2 separate regions of the Homo sapiens genome follow, and region 1 is linked to region 2. A link means that fine-mapping ties the variant in region 2 to the expression of a gene that starts in the linked region. Tissue or cell type: subcutaneous fat. Region 2 holds a variant in brackets; the other region holds the start of a gene. All regions are shown on one strand. Distances are from middle to middle.

Region 1 (6,188 bases), 35 kb before region 2:
CAATATTTTAAAAAGGTAGCCAAAGGTTTTATCAGCCACCTCACCAGAAAAGAAAAACAGATGGCAAACAGGCTCATGAAAACATACTAAAGATCATTTGTCCTTAGGTAATTATAAATCAGGAGAATAAGCATTCTTAGGTAGCATTACATACCTGAGAACATAACTAGAAAACAAAACAAAAATAAAAAGAAATGTTTAAATATTCTGATAATATCAAATGTTAACAAGGATGTGAAACAATCAGAATTCACACATAACTCCTGGTGGGAATACAAAATGGCACATCAACTTTGGAGAACAGTTTGACAATTTCTTATAAATTTAAACTGAACACTTACCATAGGACCAGGCACCTGACTCCTAAGTATTTACCCAAGAGCAATAAAAACTTACAGTTACACACAGAAACCTGCATGCCAATATTTATAACAACATTATTTCATAGTCACCCAAACCTGAAAACAATCTGAATGCTCCTCAAATGGTAAATGCATACAAAATGGGGGGTCCATAAAAACAGTGAGTTACGAGTCAGCAATTAAAGGGAACAAACTATAGATTCATACACTCAACCACATGATTGAACCTCAGAGGCACTGCACCAAGTAAATGAAGCCAGACTTTGGAGGCAACATTTTGTATGATTCCATTTATACGACATTCTGTGAAAAGGCAATACAGTAGGGATGGAAAACATATCAGCATTTTTTCATGGACTAAGTGTGGAGGGAGGGTTGACTACCCAGAGACAGGAGGAAGGAACGTTTGGTTAATGACACTCTTCAGTGTCTTCACAGTGGTTGTGGGTATATAATTATATACAACTCTCAAACCATATCAAAATTGCATATGATAAAGAGTTAATTCAACTGTATCTAACTTTAAATAAATTAAAAAATTTAAAACACTGGATGCCACTATGCTCTCACTAGAATTGTTCAAATATAAAGCAGGACAGTATCATACGTCGACAAGGGTGTGGAGCTACTGGAATTCTGGCACATGGCTAGGAGGAGTGGTAAAAAGTCAAAACCATTTTGGACAACAGTTTGGCAATTCCTACTAAGGTTAAACTTACAAGTAGTCATTAGTCTGACTATTTATCTTCCTGTGTATACCAATTAGTATAAAACCATGTATGTAAAAAGACTTGTACCTGAATACCTGTAGGGAGAAAACTGGAAAATCCTTGTCTATCAATAGGTGAGAAATAAAACATTATAGTATACACATAAATGGAATACTACTTAACAATATCACATTTTGAAATACAGACACAAACAACGTGGTTCAGTTTCAAAAAATATTATGCTGGGTCATAGGATACAGACACAAATTAACACATCTCTAGGAGATTTTCAAATAGACTAACTCACAATGAAAGAGGACATATCAGTGGTTGCCCAGCATAGAAGGTGGGAAGAAAAGCCCTTGGCATACTAGAAATGCTGTATATCTGCAGTGTGGTGAGTATACAGGCTGTACATACTCGTCAAATCTCATGCAAATGTGAACTTCAAGTAGGTGTGCTTTATTTCATGTAAATTATACCTAATTAAATTCATTAAAGAAACACAGTAAGACTCACATATTCATATTTGATCTTCTGGTCCATGAACATAGTATGACTTTATTGTTAAAACTAAATGTGGCTGGGCACAGTGCCTCATGCCCATAGTCAAAGCACTTTGGAGGTCGAGGTGGGAGGATTGCTTGAACCCAGGAGTTCAAGATCAGCCTGGGGGAACATAGCAAGACCCCATCTCTCCTAAACATAAAAACAAAAAGTTACTCCGGCCTGGTAGTATGAGCCTGTGATCCCAGCTACTAGAGAGGATGACGTGGGAGAGTCACTTGAGTCTGGGAGGTCAAGGCTGCAGTGAACTGTGGTCAGGCCGGTGCACTCCAGCCTGGGCAACAAAGCAAGACCCTGTCTTAAAAAAAAAAGCACTAAATGTATTGAATTTTCTATTACGTGCCACATGCTAAATATTTAAATAACTTACAACAGATATTATTTACTGGAGACTTAATTTGTTGTATATCAAATGAGGATGCAGCTACCTCTCTATTAGTAAGGATGAATGAAGAGTTATCTAGATACTATTGTGTGTAGAGATTTGACAAAGGTATGGTGGCAAGTACTAATATGTCCCAGGGATCAACGGTTTGCTGGATGCATACTACACAGAGTGATATGGAAAACCATGTAGCTGGACCTAAAGTTTAATTTTCTCTGTACACTCCACTCATGTTGTCTGGAAATATTATGTCTTTGGGCCATATTTAACTGTGAGAAGCAGATTTTTACATGAAAGAAAATGTTGATCCATATGATGAGCCTCTAAAAAAACTTGCTTCTGCCCACACTGAACCAAATGGCAGCATGAATGGAAAAGAAGTTTTTTCTGCACTGGTTCATAGAACATGTGTTCTCCCTTTTGTTTCACAGGAAGATGCTGCATGGTTCTTGTTTTGGAGATGTCATTGACACTGTGCAAATCAGTGTACTAGGTGCCAGGGGAAAATTCTATAGTCATATTTCTTTTAAAATTTCCAATATGCTACCATGATACATGGCAAATTCCCAACTTTTCACAGCTCTAAAGCCAGACAGCATGTGTGTGTGTGGTGAGGACATGAGGCTATGGATGGGGAGTATCTTAAGGGCAGGAATCAGGTCAGTGGCATCTCTTCTCAAGCCCCACCTATACACAAAGGCTCACTGTAAGAATTAAAGAAAGAGGAAAGAAACACGAATGGTGGCTCACCAGTCAAGACAGATTTTAGAGAAAACAAACCTGAGAGGAGTTTCTGGCCGAGTTAAGTCAGAGGCACACTCTCTTACAGACTAAGAGTTTTTAAGGATTTAGGGTGGGAGAGTTTATCAGAGACTTGGACTGCTTCTGAGTCTCTTTGTTGTGCTTATCTGGGAGAGAGAGGTGTGTGTCTGTACCCATACATCTTTCTGCAGCTACAGGCATACCCACTGAGTCTGCTTTTAGCTTCCCTATCTTAGTGCACCTGAAGGGAAAGGAATTTGCTTATTAAGGCCCACTGTTTTACTAGGGCCATTGTATGAGGGTGAAGTTTGGCAGTAACTCAAGAGACTCTCCCCCTACCTCCCTCTGTGCCCGAGCTGTCTTATCTGTGTTTCACTGTCTGCTCTTTCTGGTTGCTTGTAGTTAGCAGAGAAGTGATTTCCTTGAAATGCATGAGGCTAGAAAGGAAATTGGAACTTAAAGAGGCAGTGTTTCTCCGAGATGACGGTGCTCCTGCTCTGTCACTCACTATATCTTTAGTGAATGAATGAATAAATGAATGGCTGCCACCTTCACTTTACCTAGGACTCTTCTTTGTTTCTCTGCCCCAGACACTCACACGGACCCTATAGAATCCTATATCCTGCTGGACTAAACACCCCATGGATCTAGGTGAGGCTGCGACTCGGGCCAGGCCAGCAGTGATCAGCCCTGGTGTAAACAGTTGTGCACAGAAAAGCACCTCAGAGTGGAAGGACTTTAGACATGGGGTTCGCATGTCTCAGATGGCCCTGAAGGTACTGATCCAGGCTCTGGTGCTCCTGGAAGGCAAGACTCAGATTCTGCTCCATCTCCTCCCATCTCTGGGCGGGTCTCTGGCATCTCTGGCCCATGAGGGTCAATCTGTGTGGAGGGGACAAGCTCTGAGCATGTGTGGGTCTGAGGTTCCTCTTCCATGCAGGGCTGAGGTCTCCTGCTCCTCCCCAGCTTCCTGTCCGGCCCTGTAGTCCTTCCCCTCCACTCCCTTCCTCTTTTCTGCTCACACAGGAAGCCCTGGAAGCTGCTTCCTCAGACATGCCGCTGCTGCTACTGCTGCCCCTGCTGTGGGCAGGTGAGTGGCTGTGGGGAGAGGGGTTGTCGGGCTGGGCCGAGCTGACCCTCGTTTCCCCACAGGGGCCCTGGCTATGGATCCAAATTTCTGGCTGCAAGTGCAGGAGTCAGTGACGGTACAGGAGGGTTTGTGCGTCCTCGTGCCCTGCACTTTCTTCCATCCCATACCCTACTACGACAAGAACTCCCCAGTTCATGGTTACTGGTTCCGGGAAGGAGCCATTATATCCAGGGACTCTCCAGTGGCCACAAACAAGCTAGATCAAGAAGTACAGGAGGAGACTCAGGGCAGATTCCGCCTCCTTGGGGATCCCAGTAGGAACAACTGCTCCCTGAGCATCGTAGACGCCAGGAGGAGGGATAATGGTTCATACTTCTTTCGGATGGAGAGAGGAAGTACCAAATACAGTTACAAATCTCCCCAGCTCTCTGTGCATGTGACAGGTGAGGCACAGGCTTCAGAAGTGGCCGCAAGGGAAGTTCATGGGTACTGCAGGGCAGGGCTGGGATGGGACCCTGGTACTGGGAGGGGTTTAGGGGTAAAGCCTGTCGTGCTTAGCGGGGGAGCTTGACCAGAGGTTGATCTTCTCTCAGGCCCTCACCTGGACCCTCCCTCCTGATTCTGCATCCCCTCTTTCTCCTCACTAGACTTGACCCACAGGCCCAAAATCCTCATCCCTGGCACTCTAGAACCCGGCCACTCCAAAAACCTGACCTGCTCTGTGTCCTGGGCCTGTGAGCAGGGAACACCCCCGATCTTCTCCTGGTTGTCAGCTGCCCCCACCTCCCTGGGCCCCAGGACTACTCACTCCTCGGTGCTCATAATCACCCCACGGCCCCAGGACCACGGCACCAACCTGACCTGTCAGGTGAAGTTCGCTGGAGCTGGTGTGACTACGGAGAGAACCATCCAGCTCAACGTCACCTGTAAGTGCTGGGCCAGGATGCTGGGGTCCCTGAGGGTGTAGGGGAGACAGGATGGGCTGGTGCTGGGGACATTTAGTGTCCTGGAGGCCTGGCTGAGTTCGGGAGCCAGAAGGACATGAGCCCTGTCCCTTCTGCATTTCTGTGGTTTCTGGCAGGAGTAAGGGGAAATGCCTACCCTTATCTCATCTCTACCCCCAACTGAAGGAAATCCTCTCTTCCTCTCCTAGATGTTCCACAGAACCCAACAACTGGTATCTTTCCAGGAGATGGCTCAGGTAGGAAGGAGCCTCCCCGCCTGGGGCTGTTACTGACATTGAGTCTGTGTCAGGTTTGGTCAGATCTGGACTTTCAGAGTCAAATGTTCAGAGGCAAGGCCTGCAGTTAGACACGGGTAGACATCAGGCACCTTGGAAAAGGATATTTGGGGATGACTAGCAACTTCCCCCTTGCCCATCCAAATAATGCTCTTTGTCTCCCTCCTGTCTCTGAATGTCTTGGGGTATTTTATTTTTAATTGATATGTAATAATAGTACATATTTATGGATGGCATAGTGATGTTTCCATACTAATAATGTATAGTAATCAGATCAGGGTAATAGCATATCCATCATCTTGAACATTTATTATTTCATTGTTGTTGGGAACATTCAATATCCCCTTTCTAGCTATTTGAAGCTATCTATTATTGTTAAGCATAGTCATCCTACAGTGGTATAGAACACCAGAACTTATTCTTCCTTTCCAGGTGTAATCTAGTATCCTTTAACAAATCTCTCTCCTTATCATTGTTCCCCTAACCTTCCCAGCCCTTATTATTCTCTGTTCTACTTTTTACTTCTATGAAATCAACTTCTTGTAGCTTCCACTTATGAGTGAGAACATGTGGTATTCAACTTTCTGTTCCTAGCTTATTTCATTTAACATAATGTCCTCTAGTTCAATCTATGTTATAGTGAATAACAAGATTTCATTATTTTTTATGGCTGAATGATAATCCATTGTGTATATACGCCACATTTCCTTTATTTATTCATCTGTTGTTGGACACTTAGGTTTATTTCATATCTTCCTATTGTGGATAATGCTGCAATAAACATTGAGGTGCAGACGTTTCTTCAATATACTGATTTCCTTTCCTTTCTATAAATGCCCAGTAGTGGGGTTGCTGGATCATATGGTAGTTCTATTTGTAGTTTTTTGAGAAACTTCCATACTCTTCTCCATAGTGGTTATACTAGTTTACATTCTGGTCAAAAGTATATAAGAGTTCCCTCTTCTCTACATCCTCACCATCATTTGTTAATTTTCATCTTTTTTTTATCATAGTCCTCCCAACTGGGGTGATGTTACCTCATTGTGGTTTTGATTTGCATTTCCCTGGTGAT
Region 2 (6,188 bases):
TTGGTTTCATTTTACATCATTTCACTTAAAGCAGCAGTTTCCAAGAACTGAATGATGATGTTAAGTGAGGATTTATTGTGCACACACACATACACACACAGTGGAAGTTATTCAGCCTTAAAAAAGGACATCTTGCCATTTGCAGCAACGTAAATAAACCTGAAAGACATTATGCTATGTGAAACAAGTCAGACACAGAAAGACAAGTACTGCATGATCTCACTTATATGTAGAATCTAAGAAAGTCAAACGCATGGAAGCAAAGTATAGAATGGTGGTTGCCAGGGCTGAGGGCTAAGGGAAATGAGATATTGATCAAGGGGCACAAAGTTTCAGCTAGGCAGAATGAATAAGTTCTGGAGGTTTCATGTGCACCATGGTGACTATGGTAAATAACACTGTACTGTATACTTGAAATTTTGTGACAGTAAATATTAAGTGTTCTCACCACCAAAAAAATGGTAACTGTGAAGTGCTGATTATGTTAATTCACTGGATTGTGGTAATCATTCCACAGTGCATACATACATCAAAACGTCATGTCGTACACCTTAAGTATATACAATTTTTATTTGTCAGTTATACCTCAATAAACCTGGAATTAAAAAACTGAAAATTCTATAATCTCATCTCTGATCACTGCTCTAACCATAGGTAAGCACTGGTATCAAATTATACATCATTCTAGATCTTTGTTTTACTCATTCATGTATGTATAGTTTTGAGTGTATTATATATGAATATGTAGATACATATTTACATATTATATATATAAAGCTTTTATATAAATGACAAATGATCCAGTTTTCATTTAAAGATTGTGAAATATTTCAGACATATAGAAAGATATAAATATGGTATAATGAGCATATACCCACCACCAGCTTAATATTGAAAACACTGGCTGGGCACGGTAGCTCACACCTGTAATCCTAGCACTTTAGGAAGCCCAGGTGGGAGGACGGCTTGAGCCTAGGAGTTCAAGACCAGCCTGGGCAACATAACAAGATCCCATCTCTACATAAATTAAAAAATTAGTCAGGCATGGTGGCACATGCTTGTAGTCCCAGCTACTTGGGAGGCTGAGGTGGGAAGATTGCTTGAGCCTGGGAGGTCAAGCCTGCAGTGAACTGTGAATGCTCCGTTGCACTCCATCCAGTCTGGGTGACAGAGCAAGAAACTGTCTCAAAAAAAAAAAAAAGAAAAGAAAAGAAAGAAAACACTACCCCTGGTATACTCCCTTCCCCAAACACATCTCCCACTCTCAAACATAGAGATCGCTGCTATTCTGAATTTGACATTTTATTCTGTGTACTAAGGAACTTAACCTTGCCTGAAGAGAAGTCTGGCCTTTGCCCTTGGCTTCTGGAAGACACTCCCTAGCTCTTAGAATGTCACACCTCATAGGGGTGTCTTTGTTTGCCCAGGGACCTTGCATCACACTGAATATTCTAGAAATGTGATTTAGGATGAGGGCTGGCCACACCAGATAATGTTAACAATGTGATTTAGAGTGGAAGCAATACCAGATAGTCTAACAATGTGATTTAGAATAGGGGCTTTGGATCAAATGGTATCAGCTCAACTTCAGGAGGAGCTGGATGCTAAGATCCACCATGAGGGAAGTCACCATGTTACACGATGGAGGCCCAATAAAAACACTGGACACAAGGCTTGGGTGAGCTTCTTTAGTTGACAGTACTATGCATATTGTCACACATTATCACCAGGAAAGCTAAGTTATGCTGTCCATGACTCCACAGGGAGAGGATAACTAGAAGCTTTGTGTGGGGAACTTCTGGCCTCTGCCCTGTATGTCTTCCCTTGGCTGATTTTAATCTCTATCCTTTAGTTGTAGTAAACAGTAATCACGAGTATAACAGCTTTCAGTGAATTCTGTGAGTACTTCTAGTGAATTACCAAACCTAAGGGTAGTTTTGGGGTTCCAAAACCTTGCAAATGATTTGAGAAATGAGGGTAATCAGGGATCCTTGATATCTTCAGTTGGTGTCAGAAATGAGGGGATCTTGTGGACCATTCCCTAACTTTTCAGTTGTATCAGAAATGGGATTCACTAGAACAGCCCTGACTCACTGAAACATATGGTTTGAAAAGAGGAAGGATGTGAAGTCAAGATGATAAGCCTTTGATTCCTGGGCTGTCCTGCGGTCACCTGTGCGTATAGAAATGCAGCTGTTCTGCAAACAGTTACAGGAGGTAAAAGTTACCATTGCTTTTTCAATACAATGGATCCAACCCCCAAGGAGCTGACCCACTGGATGCATAAGGAAACAAACTAAATAGGCAGTCCCTTGGCTATTTTTATCTGTAATCGTTAAAATGAAAGTGGCTGAGGCGGATCCTGATGCTGGCCCAATCTTGGGCTCTGGCCAGCCTGAGCTACAGCTGCTAGCCTCAGGGCTGTGGCTAAAGGGAAAAGTTAGGCTGAAATGACAGATGGCAAAGAAAATTAGAGTGGTTCACCAGAGAGTGAGAAAAGACGAACATTTCCAAGAGGGTGGAAATCTTTATAAACAGTTATTAAGAAATGAGATGAGTTAAGTGGACATTGAGGGAGTCTAAACAAAGGTCTCAGTGGAGCACTCTTAGAAATTAGGTGGAGCAGTGAGAACCTAGACTTGCCCTCCAGTGTTGAAGGTCCCCCATCAAGTCTGCTATATTTACCCTAGTTTGGAGGAATTTTAGAAGCCAGAAGGCAAACATGACAATGGGAAATCTGACCTCAGATCTCCTGAGGGGACGAACATGTGATCTAATCAAGATAAATGACAAAAGGGCCTGGGTTGCTTGGCCTGACCCCTAACTGAAGACCCAAAGTCATATGCATATTAGTAGTAAAATAGTCAGGGGATGGATAAGAGATATTTCTGGGACTCATGTGGGAGTCTTATACCTGCATTCCAAAAGGTTGGTGAAATTCTAATAGCATCTATGGTTAGATTGCGAAGACATAGGATTACAAAGTGGATGAGATTCAGGCGAAACTTTGGATGAAAATTGGAATGTTTGGACAGACTATGTAAATATGTTATGTGAATGTATTTACCTAAATGTATTATGAGGAAAGATATTGTGTCCAACTATGGAAGAGTTCCCCTACGTACTATTATGAAACAGAAGGCATGTAAATCTTCCCTTCAACCAATATTGATTGAATATGCTAAATAGGAACCAATAAGATTGCCCAAGCCCACACTAATTGTTAATTTGAAACAGTACAGGATATCTGGTGGACAAAACATGTTAGAAGCTTAACGTTTGCTTTATTTAGGCAGACTGGAGCTAAGGCCAGTGAGCACCACCCAGTGGTGAATGCTGGGATTTGGGGCCAGAAAATTTCCAATGGAGAGACAACTAGCTGCCTATTGGGCTTTGAGTCTGCCCCATCATTGAAGGATATAATAATCCTGACACCTGAAATCCTCATGATGTGTTT[G/T]TCATGTTGGAAAAACACTGTAGTAAGGAAGGCCATGCCCAAAAGAGTCTCGTAATAAAATGGAAATTGTTTATACAGGAACATGCTACCAGGGAAATGCAAGGAGGTCCTCGTTATATTTATGAACAGGTGGCTTTTTCCCTACTGAAGAGCTGCGAGATCCTATTATTACTTGAATGATGTCTATTAATAGCTCTTGATTGACCAACTAAGAGCGGTTTGATTTATGGATGGCAATTCCAAAGTGAATTAATAACATCCTGTTTGGAAGACTGGCACTCATACTGAGGAAGGCAAAAACAAGTCACTTCAGTGGGCTGAACTGCCTCCACATTTGGGTTTTTACCAATTCATGGGCAGTGGCCAATGGCCTGGCCATATGGTCAGGCAGATGGGCAATGGGAAACTGTACTATTAAAAGGATGCCTATATAGGGTACAGCCTTATGGAATTCACTATAGCCAGTATCTCAAAAGACCTGTTCATACCCCCTACAAATGATAAAATAAACAGAGAAACAGACCTCTTCCTCCCAAAAAGGCAATTAATATCCTACCTTTTATGCTGGACATTTCTTGGCAACTTTTAAAGGATTTTTACTACTTGTGTGTGCGTTCTTAAACACTTGATTTTGCCCGGTTTTTTTCAAATTTTAAAGAAATGCTCATACATTATTACTTATTTGTGTCTGGCTTTGTTCATTCAATATTTTATTTGTAAGAATGGTCCATGTTGTTGCATCTAGCATTAGCTCATAGGTTTTTGTTGCTGTGTAGTATCTCATTTTTTAAAATTCTCTGTTTACTGGCATTTGGATTGTTTACCTTTTTAGCTATTTTTAAATAATACCACTGTAAACATTTTTGCATTCCTTTGTGGCGTACATATGCACAAACATTTCTATAAAGTATACATCTGGGAGTGGAATTGAGGGTCATAGAGTATGTGTATCTTCTGCTTTGATAAATAACTTTGTTGCCCTGATTTATATTTCCACCAATAGTGTGTGAAAGTTGAGTACCACATTCTCACCAAGACTTGATATATTGTCTTGGATATGTACTGGTATCTGATGGTTTTAACAGGCATTTTGCTGGTTATTAATGAGATTTTAAATATTTTCATGGAAATTTTATTAAGATTTGTCTTATGATCCAGCTGTGGCCAATTTCTGTAAACGTTCTCTGTGTGCTTACAAAGAAATTGTATTCTGCAGTTATTGATTGCAGTATTCTCTATATATTTTTGGTCAAATTTGCTGATCAAGTTGTTGAAATCTTTATATATTCCAATAGTCTGTTTGTTCTGTCAGTTTCTGAGAGAACAGTGATTAAAATGTCACACTACTATTGTGGATGTCTGTTTCTCCTTTTATTTTTGTAGATTTTTTGCTTTATATATTTTTGGACTATGTTAGTAGGCAAACACAAATTTTAAATATATACTTTATTCCTGTTAATGTCAGCTTATCATTAGGAGATATGCCATTCTATCTTTGGTAATGCCTTTTGCTTAAAGTCTGCTTTATGGGATGTTAATGTAGGTATGTCTACATTACCTGGCTTTCTGGTTGGTATTTGCTTGGTGTATGTTTTCATTCTTTGGTTTTTTCTTTTTTTCTTTTTTTGAGACGGAGTCTTGCTCTGTCGCCCAGGCTGGAGTGCAGTGGCATGATCTCGGCTCACTGCAAGCTCTGCCTCCCAGGTTCATGCCATTCTCCTGCCTCGGCCTCCTGAGTAGCTGGGATTACAGGGGCCCGCCACCACACCCAGCTAATTTTTTGTATTTTTAGTAGAGACGGGGTTTCACCGTGTTAGCCAGGATGGTCTGGATCTCCTGACCTCGTGATCCGCCCGTCTCGGCCTCCCAAAGTGCTGGGATTACAGGCATGAGCCACCGCTCCCGGCCCATTTGGTTTTTTAACTGTCCTTTACACTTATGCTTTGGTTGTGTCTTTTGTAAACAGCATGGAGTTTGGCTTTGCTTCTTTTTTCCAATATGATGATCTTAGATTCATAACTGGATAATTTAAGCCATTTATATTTAGTTAAATCACTGATGTATTGGAGTTTAAATCTAACATCTAGGTACATGATTTCTACTTGTCCCAACCGTTCTATTCTCTTTTGTATCCCTTCTGTTTGTTTCTCTGTCTTTATTTTCAAACAAGCTTTTAAATCAAAGTACAATTTTATACAGAGAAGTATTAATACAGATAGTAAGTATACAACTCAAATTATCACAAAGGGAGCAGACCAGTGTAACCACCACTGAGGTCAAGAAATAGAACATTAACAACACCCCAAACACTCCACTCATGTACTACACCATTCATTACCCCCTTTATCCTTGCTATGTTCTGGATGCAAGCACGTTGTATGTGTTGCAAGTATGTTCTCCAGCCCTGCAACTTGCATTTGTCCTCCTTAATGGTATCTTTTGATGCAGAAATTAATTCTGATACAGTCCATTTTATCCATATTTCCTCATAGCTAGTGCTTTTTGGCCCTTTTAAAGAAATATTTCCTTACCTAAAACTTACCAAGATACTCTCCTATGTTGTATTAAAGAATTCCACTGACCAATGTGGTAGCTACTAACTACATATGGCTATTGAGCCCTTATATTATGGCTAGTCTGAATTGAAGTGTGCTGTAAGTGTAAAATATATACAAGATTTTGAAGAGTGTATAAAGAATGTACCAAATCTTAACAATTTTGTGTTGATTGC

The links. PIP is the estimated chance that this variant, and not a neighbour inherited with it, causes the effect.
Region 1: it holds the start of CD33, and the variant in region 2 is fine-mapped to the expression of CD33 in subcutaneous fat (GTEx, PIP 0.95).

Annotation. Positions count from the first base shown.
Region 1 is chr19:51,221,280-51,227,467 of GRCh38, forward strand. It overlaps CD33 (CD33 molecule), which reads left to right and starts at 3,801. Exons shown (of 7, transcript NM_001772.4): 1 at 3,801-3,876; 2 at 3,939-4,319; 3 at 4,524-4,802; 4 at 5,030-5,077. The coding sequence starts at 3,840. All of the region lies in intron 2 of LOC107985327 (a long non-coding RNA gene), which reads right to left.
Region 2 is chr19:51,256,223-51,262,410 of GRCh38, forward strand. All of the region lies in intron 1 of SIGLECL1 (SIGLEC family like 1), which reads left to right. All of the region lies in intron 2 of LOC107985327 (a long non-coding RNA gene), which reads right to left. Among named protein-coding and RNA genes, the nearest start is that of SIGLECL1, 8.2 kb to the left of the region's middle. The variant G/T (reference allele first, on the strand shown) is at 3,458.